2 linked regions of the Homo sapiens genome follow. The protein of the gene in region 2 purifies or fractionates together with the protein of the main gene of each other region. This does not show direct contact. Each region holds a gene or a part of one and is shown on either strand. Other genes may lie near its edges.

Region 1 (3,385 bases), on a different chromosome or scaffold from region 2:
CATGTCCCTTGAGGGACCCTGGGAACTCTGATTGTGGGTTGTTGAAAACACATTGACTCCTATGGGGCATGGGCTTCTGAATCAAGGTGGCCCTCAGGAGTACTGATGTAAGGACTGCTCCTGTGGAAGGGAACTGCTGACATGGCCCTGCTGGCATGCTGAGCATCTCTCTCCATCCTTCTAAGAAACTCTGATGCCAGGTATGATCTGTCCAGGTCTTGCGAGTCTTAATGTCTAGTTGAGCCCAAAAAAAAACCCATGGTGGATACAGCTCTTCCTCCCCTCAGCCCTCTCCTACCTACTTCTAGGCTTTTATCCCATGTAGGTGGAACTGTGATATTAGTCCAGCTAGTCAAGATGAAATCCAACCAGCTTGCTCACTTTGCCATCCTGGGCGCTTTCCCATTGCCACGTCTCCCTAGCTAACAATCAAGATTAAAGGGCACCTGGGTTTTGACGACCAGCTCCCCTTCCTCCCATCCAATAAGAAGACTTGACCAAGATGCTTAGAATCATTTAATGAATGTTCCAAACACACCCTTCACTGGGCTACAGGTAAATTTCACTGGGATGGAAGCAGATGAACCACCCAATCAAACAGTACATGATTACTCGGTTTCCAGAAATCTGGATACCAGAAAAACTCAGTAGGAAACATCAGGATCACCTAGCCAGAGGTTCCTTGTGATTCTTTGCTTCCTCCTCTCCTCTTCCTCCTCCCTGCTAAGGAACTTCTCCAGGGGTACAAATGTTCAGGATGGGAGAAGGGGAAGTCAGGTCCCTTATCTCTAGGGCAAAGAGGAGTGCTGTGACACCACACCCCAGAGACAACAAGATGATGTGGAGGCACAGGCCTGCTCAATAAATAGTTCCCAGAAGTCTCCACAGTGGGATTAATGGGCCCAGGGACGCTGAACTGCAGGAGCCACCTTCCCGAGGCCAGGCTGTGGCCTGCTCGCTACGTGTTGCACACCAGCACATCTGCAAAGGGTCCCAGGAGGATCTTGTTGAAGATGCAGCGGACCCACACCAGGTAGGTGGTGAAGGGCTTGATGTTCTCAGTGAAGGTGTGGTTCTGCAGAGCCAGGATGTAAGGCACGTAGGTGTTCTCCCCCTGCTCCTGCAGCCACACCTCGTACTTCACCTCCCTCACCTTCAGGTATTTAAGGTTCCATGGGATCTGCCAGGAGACAGTGAGGCGGGCCTCGGAGGCGCCATGCACTGACGCCTGGCACCGTGCCTCCCGCACCTTGCCTGGATATAGGCCGACTGTCCACTTCTGCTTCCGTGGTCCTGGCCGGCCCTTCACCACGCGCCGTATGGTTTGAATGAGGGACGGGATGTCCACCTTGGTGTCCTGGTAGATTCGGAAGAGCCACTCGGGGTTCCGGCAACAGAGATGCCGTGGGACCTCACGGCTTTGCAGGATACGGGCTTGCTCAGCCCGGTCCAGATGGGTGATGCCCCCCTGATCCCAGGGCCGCTCAGGGTGTGTGACTGTGTTCTCTGGCATCATGTTCCGCCAGGCTACATACTGGAGGTCCATGCCAGGCAGCATGGCCAGCGTCTTATAGGGAGTGTAGTGGTCGGGATTGACAGCATATGGGAAGAGCTCTACCACAGTTGCCCCACGGGGCAGGAAGAGGGTGGTGACCAGCTGGGCCCCATGCATGCTGACCAGCATGGAGGCATTGCTGACCAGCCGCACGACATCAGCAAAGGTGTGGTCCTCCAGGGACACTGTCACTGTCTTCATCTGGAACTCCTGGGCCAGTGCCAGCAGCAGCTCTGCCTCATTCAGAATGAGTCTGTTCTGGGTTCGGCTAAAGACCAGAATGTACTCCTCGCCTAGGGGGACTCCTGTGTGGCTCACGTTCAGCTTTTCTGTCATGAACCGTGCAAACTGCCGGATCTCATTGCCTGAGACGAGGATGTTGGCCTTCGGGCCCTGGGGCTGCACAAAGCCATACTGGTACCAGGTAGTGATCTTGGAGAGGCCCACAAAAGCATGGGAGAAGCACAGCAGCCGGCCCAGGGTCTTCAGCTGTGCCCGCAGGAGAGGCTGCTTGGGGCTGAGCAGCTTGTAGAGGTCGAAGTGTGCACCCTCGCCCCAGCCCTCCATGAAGAAGAGCCGTGCCTCGTGGGCCAGGCCGGGAAACTGCCGCAGGGTGTAGAAGAGTGGCAGCAGGTCGTCATGAAAGACGTGCATGAGGTTGTCGGGGTTGAAGCGGTTGGCGATGAGGGCCACGTCTGGCACGAACACCGGCTTGGGCATGAAGCGCAGGGCAGCAGCAGGCAGCTCCACGAAGTTGAAGTACTGAGTGTTGTGGTCCTCCACGGTGGATAGGTCGAGCAGGGCTGGCTGGAAGCGCCGGGAGCCCAGGTTGGGCAGCATGACAGAGGTGTTGCCATGGAAGAAGATGAACTCCTCAGCCTCGTTGGAGTAGCAGAGCCACTTGAAGCGGCAGATGCGGTCTGTGTGCGTGCGGCCCGTGCACACCATGTGTGTGCCGCCCTCCATCAGGATCTGCAGTGCCTTCGGGTAGTCGATCCTCAGTGCTGGGGCTGGCTCTGTGGCCTGTCGGCTGAGGGCCAGCTCCTCCTCCAGTGTGGCTGCATGCTCACGCAGCCGCACATGCTTCCACAGGACCGCTGCCAGCACCGACACCAGGAGGGCGTTGAACACCGCCGAGAGGTGCATCCTAATGCCACTGTGGGGCCCTAATGAGATGACGGCCACTGGGAAGCACCACAGGCCAGGCAGGCTTCACCCATCCCTATGGGCATCCTGAGAACTGGTGAAAGCCTGCAGGAGGAGAGAAGGAAAAGAAAAAGGAATTGGCAGTCTTCCTGGCATCATTACAAGCTCCTGCTATGTGCCAGGCACGGTAGCTAGGCTCTGTGTGCCCGCTACAGCACTGGATCCTTGCAGCCATTGTGCACATTGGTAGGCGTGGTAGATTAGACCATTGTTTAAAATATTCTCTCCCTCCCCATCGCCTCCATGTTGGAAAGTGCATCCCCACACCCGACTTTGGGCTTAGCCATTTAACTTGCTTTGGCCAGTGAGATGTCAGCAGACAGAACATAATCAAAGGTTTGGAAAGTGTTTGGGCTGGCCTTGCCCTCTTTATGACACTGCCATAAGAAGAATGTATTCAGGCTAACTTGCTGGCCCCAAGAGGAGCGAGATACGCATGAAGCAGAACTGCTCCGGCCATGCCCTGTTCTAGTTCAGCTGATCCCTCATGACTGAGTGGGCCCAGCCAAGAGCAGCAGTGCGATCAGCCAAACGCAGCCAAGATCAGCCAACACATAGACATCAGGGCTGAGCAACAGCTGATTAAACATCCCTGAAATTCTGGGGCTGTTTGTGATGAAGCAC
Region 2 (7,039 bases):
TATCCCTCTCTATATCCCCTCCCCAACACAGTCCTGCCTCACATTTCTCACTCTTAACGCTTTATTCATCTGTCCATTTACCAATCCAACAATAGTGGACCTCCTCTGTGTCAAACATTGGGCCAGACACAACATCTAGTGCTGAACAAATCGTGTTTCCTGCCCTCAAGCAGCTCGTAGTCTGATAAGGGAGAGGACAAGTACACAGTCTCTTATAGACCAGTGTGATAAGAGATCCATTCAGGTCAAGGTGGTCCATAGCAGCACCTCAGTGAGCTGGGGGATCTGGGGCAGGTGGATTTAGGATAATGTGAGTTCTGAGGGAAGTGTGAATCAGAGGGGAACAATTCAAGCAGAGGAAATGATGTGTGCAAAGCAAGTTATAGAAAGCATAGTGTGGCTTGTGGTGTGATGAGTGGAGAGAAATTCTGAAGACCTCACCGTACCATGTTATCTTAGGAAAAGGATTGGCTTCTTTTTTTTGTCTAGGTAGAACATAGAGAATCTTGACTATGACTTAAATAATCTTATTAAAAAAGGGAGGATTGTTTTTATGAGGCAGAGGTTAAGGAGAGAGAAAAAGAAAGAAACGTTGAAGAGAAAGGTGAAAACAAATAAGCTGTATGTGAGGAGTGGAGGGCAGGAAACAAAGAAAATAGTAATGTTTGCATTATCTTTCGGAAGGGAAGAGGTCAAGATGTTACATTACTTTAGAGCCTTCACCACTAGGTGGTGTTATTGGCTCAAGACAGCTTGGTTACTGAACTTGTTGCAAGTCTGGGAAGTATGCCTTTTTGTTTTGAAATAAGAAGTAGTGTTGGGAAATTAGGAAATTAGTTAGAGGTTAGATTATCAAAGGTCTTTAATGCAAGGTTAAGAATCATATACTTAGCAGGCTAAGGGGAAATACTGAATATTTTCAAGCTAAAGAATAATATCACAAAGAAGTTTGAATAGGTTGACTGGGATTGGGGGCAGAAAGCAGGAATACCAAAAGACTGTAGGAATACTCTGCATGAACAAAATACCCATTCTAACTAGGTGGTAGCAGCAGAAATGCAAAGGGAACCATTTTGAGAAATTGAGAAAGAAATGTCAAGTTTGGATAACTTTTGAGAAATGAAGGTTTGAGAGCCAGGAGGCTGTAAAGATTTTAGTCCATCCTTCAATTTCTCGAATACATAGAGTCGAAAGGATTAAGCAAGTTCCTTGAATTCACACAGTTGATTAGTGACAAAGCTGGAGCTAGGTTCCACATTTGATGTTCTCCCAACCCCTTCCTTTTTGTTTGATTTGTTAGTTTGCAAACTTGGTTGATTTGGGAAGTGGTGAGATTGGAAAATAACTGGAAGAGCTGTTATTTTGCAATGGCGAAAGGGTGAAAAGTCTATATAGTTGTCCCTTGGTCTCTAAGGGAGGTTTGGGATTTTATACCCAAATCTGAGAATGCTCAAGTCCCTGATATAAAATGGGGTACTATTTATATTTTTACTGTTTTATTGTTTATTTTAAAGACGTTCTCAACCTGAGGTTGGTTGGATCCATGGATGCAGAACTCTTATATAGTGAAGGCCAATCGTATAACTTAGGTTTGATGGTATTTTAGGAGGAATGTTACGAGGTGTTTGAGAGAGGTTAGAGCTGAAATTGCAGATTTGGTGCACTGATCCTTCATGATTTGAGGCAGAGTAGATGAGATCTTTAAGGGTGGTAATAAATGCATGTGGAGGAAGAGTTGGAAGACAAGTTTGTAATGCCAGAGTTGTAGGTGAGTCAGTGTAGAGTATAAAAGAGTATGGAAGAGAATCAGGAGAATGTTGTCATTCATTTTTCATACCTGTGGATTGCCTCTTTGTTTTGGGGGACTCTGTGACCGAATGAAGGATCAGGAGTGTTGGGGAGGGGAGTGAGTGGTGTCAAAGGTGTCATGAAATCAAGGAGGATGAGCACTGAGAAAAGGTCATTGGTTTGACATTAGCTTGTGATGCGGGAACGGCTGTTCTGCCAGGGTGGACCTGCAGGATCTCTGTGGAGCAGCGTTTGGCGGAGAGGGAGTTCTAAGGAAGCCAGGGCGGTGCTGTGAAACTCCTTTTCTTGCGATCTTTGCCAGTATAAAAAAAGAGAAGAATAAGAGTGTTTGTTTGAAAGAAGCAAAGGTTTGAATGAAGTTTATTTTATTTTATTTTATTTTATTTTTTTGAGACGGAGTCTGGCTCTGTCGCCCAGGCTGGAGTGCAGTGGCGCAATCTCGGCTCACTGCAAGCTCCGCCTCCCGGGTTCAAGCGATTCTCCTGCTTCAGCCTCCTGAGTAGCTGGGACTACAGGTGCATGCCACCACGCCCGGCTAATTTTTGTATTTTTAGTAGAGACGGGGTTTCACCATGTTGGCCAGGATGGTCTCAATCTCTTGACCTCATGATCTGCCCACCTCAGCCTCCCAAAGTACTGGGATTACAGGCATGAGCCACCGTGTCTGGCCAAGCTTATTTTTTAAGTAGGAGAAGAACCTGTGTGTGTGTATGGATTCTGCACAAGGTGTCAGGAGTGGGAGGAGCTGTAGAAGAGGCAGGATTTTGTGGTATCAGAGTATCTTTATTTGCAGCTAGGGTGGGTGGCATCTCTTCTGAGGTGTAAGAAGAGAGAACAGGTGAAGAGAACATTTTAAGAGGAGGAGGGAAGATGGACTTTTCTCCCTGAAGATTTCCGTTTTCTTGCTGTACATGGAACATTCACTTTCCTGGTCTGTCATTTAGTGAAGGGTTGACCGAATCTAATTATACAGGGAGCCCAATTCAACGTATAAAATAAAGTCTTACTTACCAACTTGGGAGTGGAAGAAGTGGCCATTGTTGATTATTGGCTACTCTGCCAAGATGTCATTTAAATTACTTCTGTTTGTGGAGAAAAATACATTAGATGAGATGATCTCCATTCACAAGAGGTCAACAGTCCATTGAGCTTCTCCTTGGGCAAAGTTTGTCCTGGAATGTGGATGAGGAGAAAGTGGTTGGAGGATAAGGAATATATAGAGAGGGGAAAGAAGAGAATAGCACAGGAATGCCTCACCCTGCCAGAAATAGACACACAGCCGCTGCCTACCTGTCCTGTCTTGTCGTTCCCAGGAGCACAGAACAACTAGAACCCGTCATCTTCGTAATGCCAACAGACATGTTTTATAGGTTCATGTAGATAACTAGGTTTTATATAGAGGCTGTTTGAAAAATAGGACATCTGTTTATCTTTCTTAAGGGCAGGAACACTTCAGGAATCTATTTTGGATTGATTAAATCATGTACATGGTGAAGTTTTCTGAAAAAGCCAGATTGTAGTTCCACACTGTCATTGTCAGTAAAGACCATTCTCAGGGTTAAATTGGAACCGGTGGTTGATCATGTGAAGGCAATATTTAAAGTATGTCTTGCTAGAGTTACCAGATTATTGCAGCCCCAGTCAAAGATAACAACATATAAATGGAGTTAGCAGAAGTGATTAAATGACATATACCAAGCCTAAGGCTGCTGCTCAATTTCTAGGGTCACAGCTTCCTCCGTTCATGCTGAAAATCATATGAAGATGGGTTGAAAAGAATTAGTGTACACCCAGAAAATAAACAGGATCTACTCATTAGTATTTCAGTGTAAGGATGAAAGCTTTTAAAAGTACCGACATGGCTATGATAATTGAACTAGAAAAATAGAGAGTTTTTTTTTTCCTGTTGTAAATTTTATTTGGAATGTCTGAAATTTTAGAAATCATTCAACATTCTTTTTAATATACAGTATTTTTAAAAAGCCATTTACGCTGGGTGCGGTGGCTCATGCCTGTAATCCCAGCACTTTGGGAGGCTGAGGTGGGTGGATGACTTGCAGCCAGGAATTCGAGATTAGCCTGGCCGTCTCTACTAAAATACAAAAGTTAGCTGGTCATGGTGGTGCATGCCTGTATTCCTAGCTACTCAGGAGGCTGAGGCATGAGAATCGCTTGAACCCAGAAGGCAGAGGTTGCAGTGAGCCACGATTGCACCGCTGTGCTCCAGTCTAGGTGACAGAACAAGACTGTCTCCAAAACAAACAAACAAACAAAAAAACTCGTTTACAATTCATAATCTCTTGACAACTTCATGATCCTGCTTTGAAAATGTGTTTGCCGGCCAGGCCCAGTGGCTCACAACTGTAATCCCAACATTTTGGGAGGTCCAGGCAGGTCGATCAGTTGAGCTCAGGAGTTCGAGACCAGCCTGGGCAACATGGTGAAACCCCATCTCTACAAAAATACAAAAAATTAGCTGGGCATGGTGGTACGCCCAGGTACCCCGGAGGCGGAGGCGGGAGGATCACTTGAGCCTGGAAGGTTGGTGCTGCAGTGAGCTATGATGGTGCCACTGCTCTCCAGCCTGGGAGATAGAGCAAGACCCTGTCTCGGGGGAAGAAAGATGCTTGCAATTTAGAGATCTCTTAAAAATACTTTAAAAATGTGACACTGAACTGAACTCGAAATTCCAAATTTTAATCATGAGTTAAATTCTACTGACGCTTTCACTATGTTGATAGAAAATGAGAGTGGAGAAGAGCACAGTGAGGGAGAACACAGAGTTCTCAACTTAATAATTTTGTGTTTTTATCATAACATGTGAAATGAAAAGTTTAATAATGTCCTGTTCCATAAAGGCTAGAATGACTACTTGTGCTTGTAAGAATTGTGACCGCTCAGTAATAAATATGCGGCGTTTAACAGAATTGGTGCATTGTGTGATGCTGTGTCTCACCTAATGTCCTGTCTCTGTGGCGTGTGAAACCCTTCGAAGACTTGAGCTTGAGGTCATCTAAACACTTGAATATATGCAGTTAGGTTTTCAGCACAGGGGCTGTGTTCTGTTTTGTGAAGAATGTGCAGTCACAGTAATTGATGGAAGCATTTTACATGAAGGTCTCCCTAATGAAGAAATATGAAGATATTAATATCTGATTTTTACTGCAAAAGTTATTTTTCTGCCGTATTTATAGATTTTCAGAGATCTATGCTAAAGATATTTAAGCTTTAGACTGGGAGCCCTTCTCCTTCAAGGCTAGACTAAGTAAACACTCTTTGTTTTGGCTTCGGAAAATGCATTTTAGAAATCCCAAATTGCAGTGAGTTTAAGTAGTGTGATCACCTTCTAAATATCAAAGTATAGCCCTTGGCTCAGATGGTCTTTGGAGTTTAATTTCCATAAGCAAAGGAGTCTAGGCGATAAGGTCCTTTTTAGATGAAATGGTGTTGGAGTCTCTCCCCGCTTCAGCTTTACTGTTTGTTTTGCATGAGAGCCACAGCCATTGTTTTGATCAGGGTGGTTTTTATAGTGAAACCTGAATTCGTGGTTCTTGGTTACATTACTGCACGGTTAACAATGTCTTCCAAAAAGTGTATTTTTTCATTTAATAATTTATTCTACTCACAGTAGCATTCTGTTAGCCAAGTTTGCAGAGTACATTCAGGTTTTTCAAAGATTTCAGTTAGGAATGTGGTCCACAAGTCCGTCCCAGCTGTATTGTGTCCCGTGAGAACTGCTGAGTAGGATGTGGAAGGTAATTGCATGTTTGGGAATCCAGTTGGGGATGAGTGGGTGGTGGTGGGGGCTGTGGTGGGACTGAGCACCTGGGACAGCATGGGGAGAGAACAGCCAAAGCAGTCTGACGTGTTGGCCATGGTCTGTGTGTCTTAGGGGATGGAACAGTGCCAGAGCCTTCTGGTGGGGGGATGGAGGGGGAAGCAGCGTGGCGCATCAGCAAGTACTTTTTTTTTTGTTTTTGAGACAGAGTCTTGCTCTGTCACCTAGGCTGGAGTGCAGTGGTGCGATCTCAGCTCAGTGCAACCTCCGTCTCCCTTGTTCACGCGATTCTCCTGCCTCTGCCTCCCAAGTAGCTGGGACTACAGGCGCACACCACCGCACCCAGCTACTTTTTGTATTTTTAGTAGAGACAGGGTTTCACCATGTTGGCCAGGATGGTCTCGGTCTCTTGACCTCGTGATCCGCCTGCCTCGGCCTCCCGAAGTGCTGGGATTACAGGCGTGAGCCACCGCGCCCAGCTGGATTAGTGAGTATTTATATTATATAGAACTCCAAGTTCTAATGTTAGGCTTCAGCTGTAGAAAAATCTTTATTTACTCACTGTTTCTTATCACACCACTATGCTGTGGTTCCCTTTCCTCCCTCAGTGGCCGACATCTCCCCTGTCAGGGCCTCCCGTTTGGACCCTTCAAATCTTGGGGTTCTGCTCTTGGATTTTTTTTTTCTTCTGCCTGCTCTCTTCCTTGGTGATCTCATTCAGTTCTGTGGTTTTAAATACCGTCTTTCATATTTAGACAACTCTCAAATTTCTATCTGCCGGCTGGAGTCTCCCACATATCTGCTGCCCACTCACAATCTTTACTTGGATAGCCCGTAGCTGTTCCCATCTTACCCTGTCCAAAACTGACCTCCCGATCTGCTCCCTGAGGCTGCTTCTCCTCCTGTCTCCCTCTCGGTTCCTGGCCCCCTTGTTCTCTACGCTGAGCAGTCTTTGGCATCTTCTCTGGTACTGTTCTCTCCTCCTTTCCCTCCCTCTCCCCACTCCAGCATCAGGCAACCTTGAAATAGATTCACAATCTGCCCCCCACCCCCGTTGTGCCCCAGCCCACACGCGCTCCACCTGTGTTGTGGCTGCAGCCTCTGACTGCTCTGGTCGCCCTCCAGCTTCTGCCCTGGCTGCCCACAGGTTTTTCCATTTTACTGAGACCGTGGCACTCCTCGGTTCAGAATCCGCTGGGGGACTTCTCATTTGATTCATACTAAACTCTAAAGTCCTAAAAATTGTCCTTTATCCATGAGTCCAGACGGATCTTGAGAAAAAAAAAGATTCAGGTTGGATGCAGTGGCTCACACCTGTAATCCTAGCAGTTCGGGAGGCCGAGTTGGGCAGATCGCTTGAGCCTGGGTGTTTGAGACCAGCCTGGGCAACGTGGTGAAACCCCGTCTCTATAAAAAATACAAACATGAGCCAGGCGTGCTGGTGGTTCCTGA

The links.
Region 1: the proteins of FAT1 (region 2) and POMGNT2 purify together in Homo sapiens (affinity purification with mass spectrometry; 2 studies listed by BioGRID and IntAct, with this or other methods). This does not show direct contact.

The regions. Positions count from the first base shown.
Region 1 is NC_000003.12:43,078,731-43,082,115, forward strand, and holds the end of POMGNT2 (protein O-linked-mannose beta-1,4-N-acetylglucosaminyltransferase 2), read right to left. Parts: intron 2,807-3,385; 5' UTR 2,702-2,806; coding exon 959-2,701; 3' UTR 504-958; downstream 1-503. UniProt on the Homo sapiens protein: O-linked mannose beta-1,4-N-acetylglucosaminyltransferase that transfers UDP-N-acetyl-D-glucosamine to the 4-position of the mannose to generate N-acetyl-D-glucosamine-beta-1,4-O-D-mannosylprotein.
Region 2 is NC_000004.12:186,713,827-186,720,865, reverse strand, and holds part of FAT1 (protocadherin Fat 1 isoform 1 precursor), read left to right. Parts: intron 1-7,039.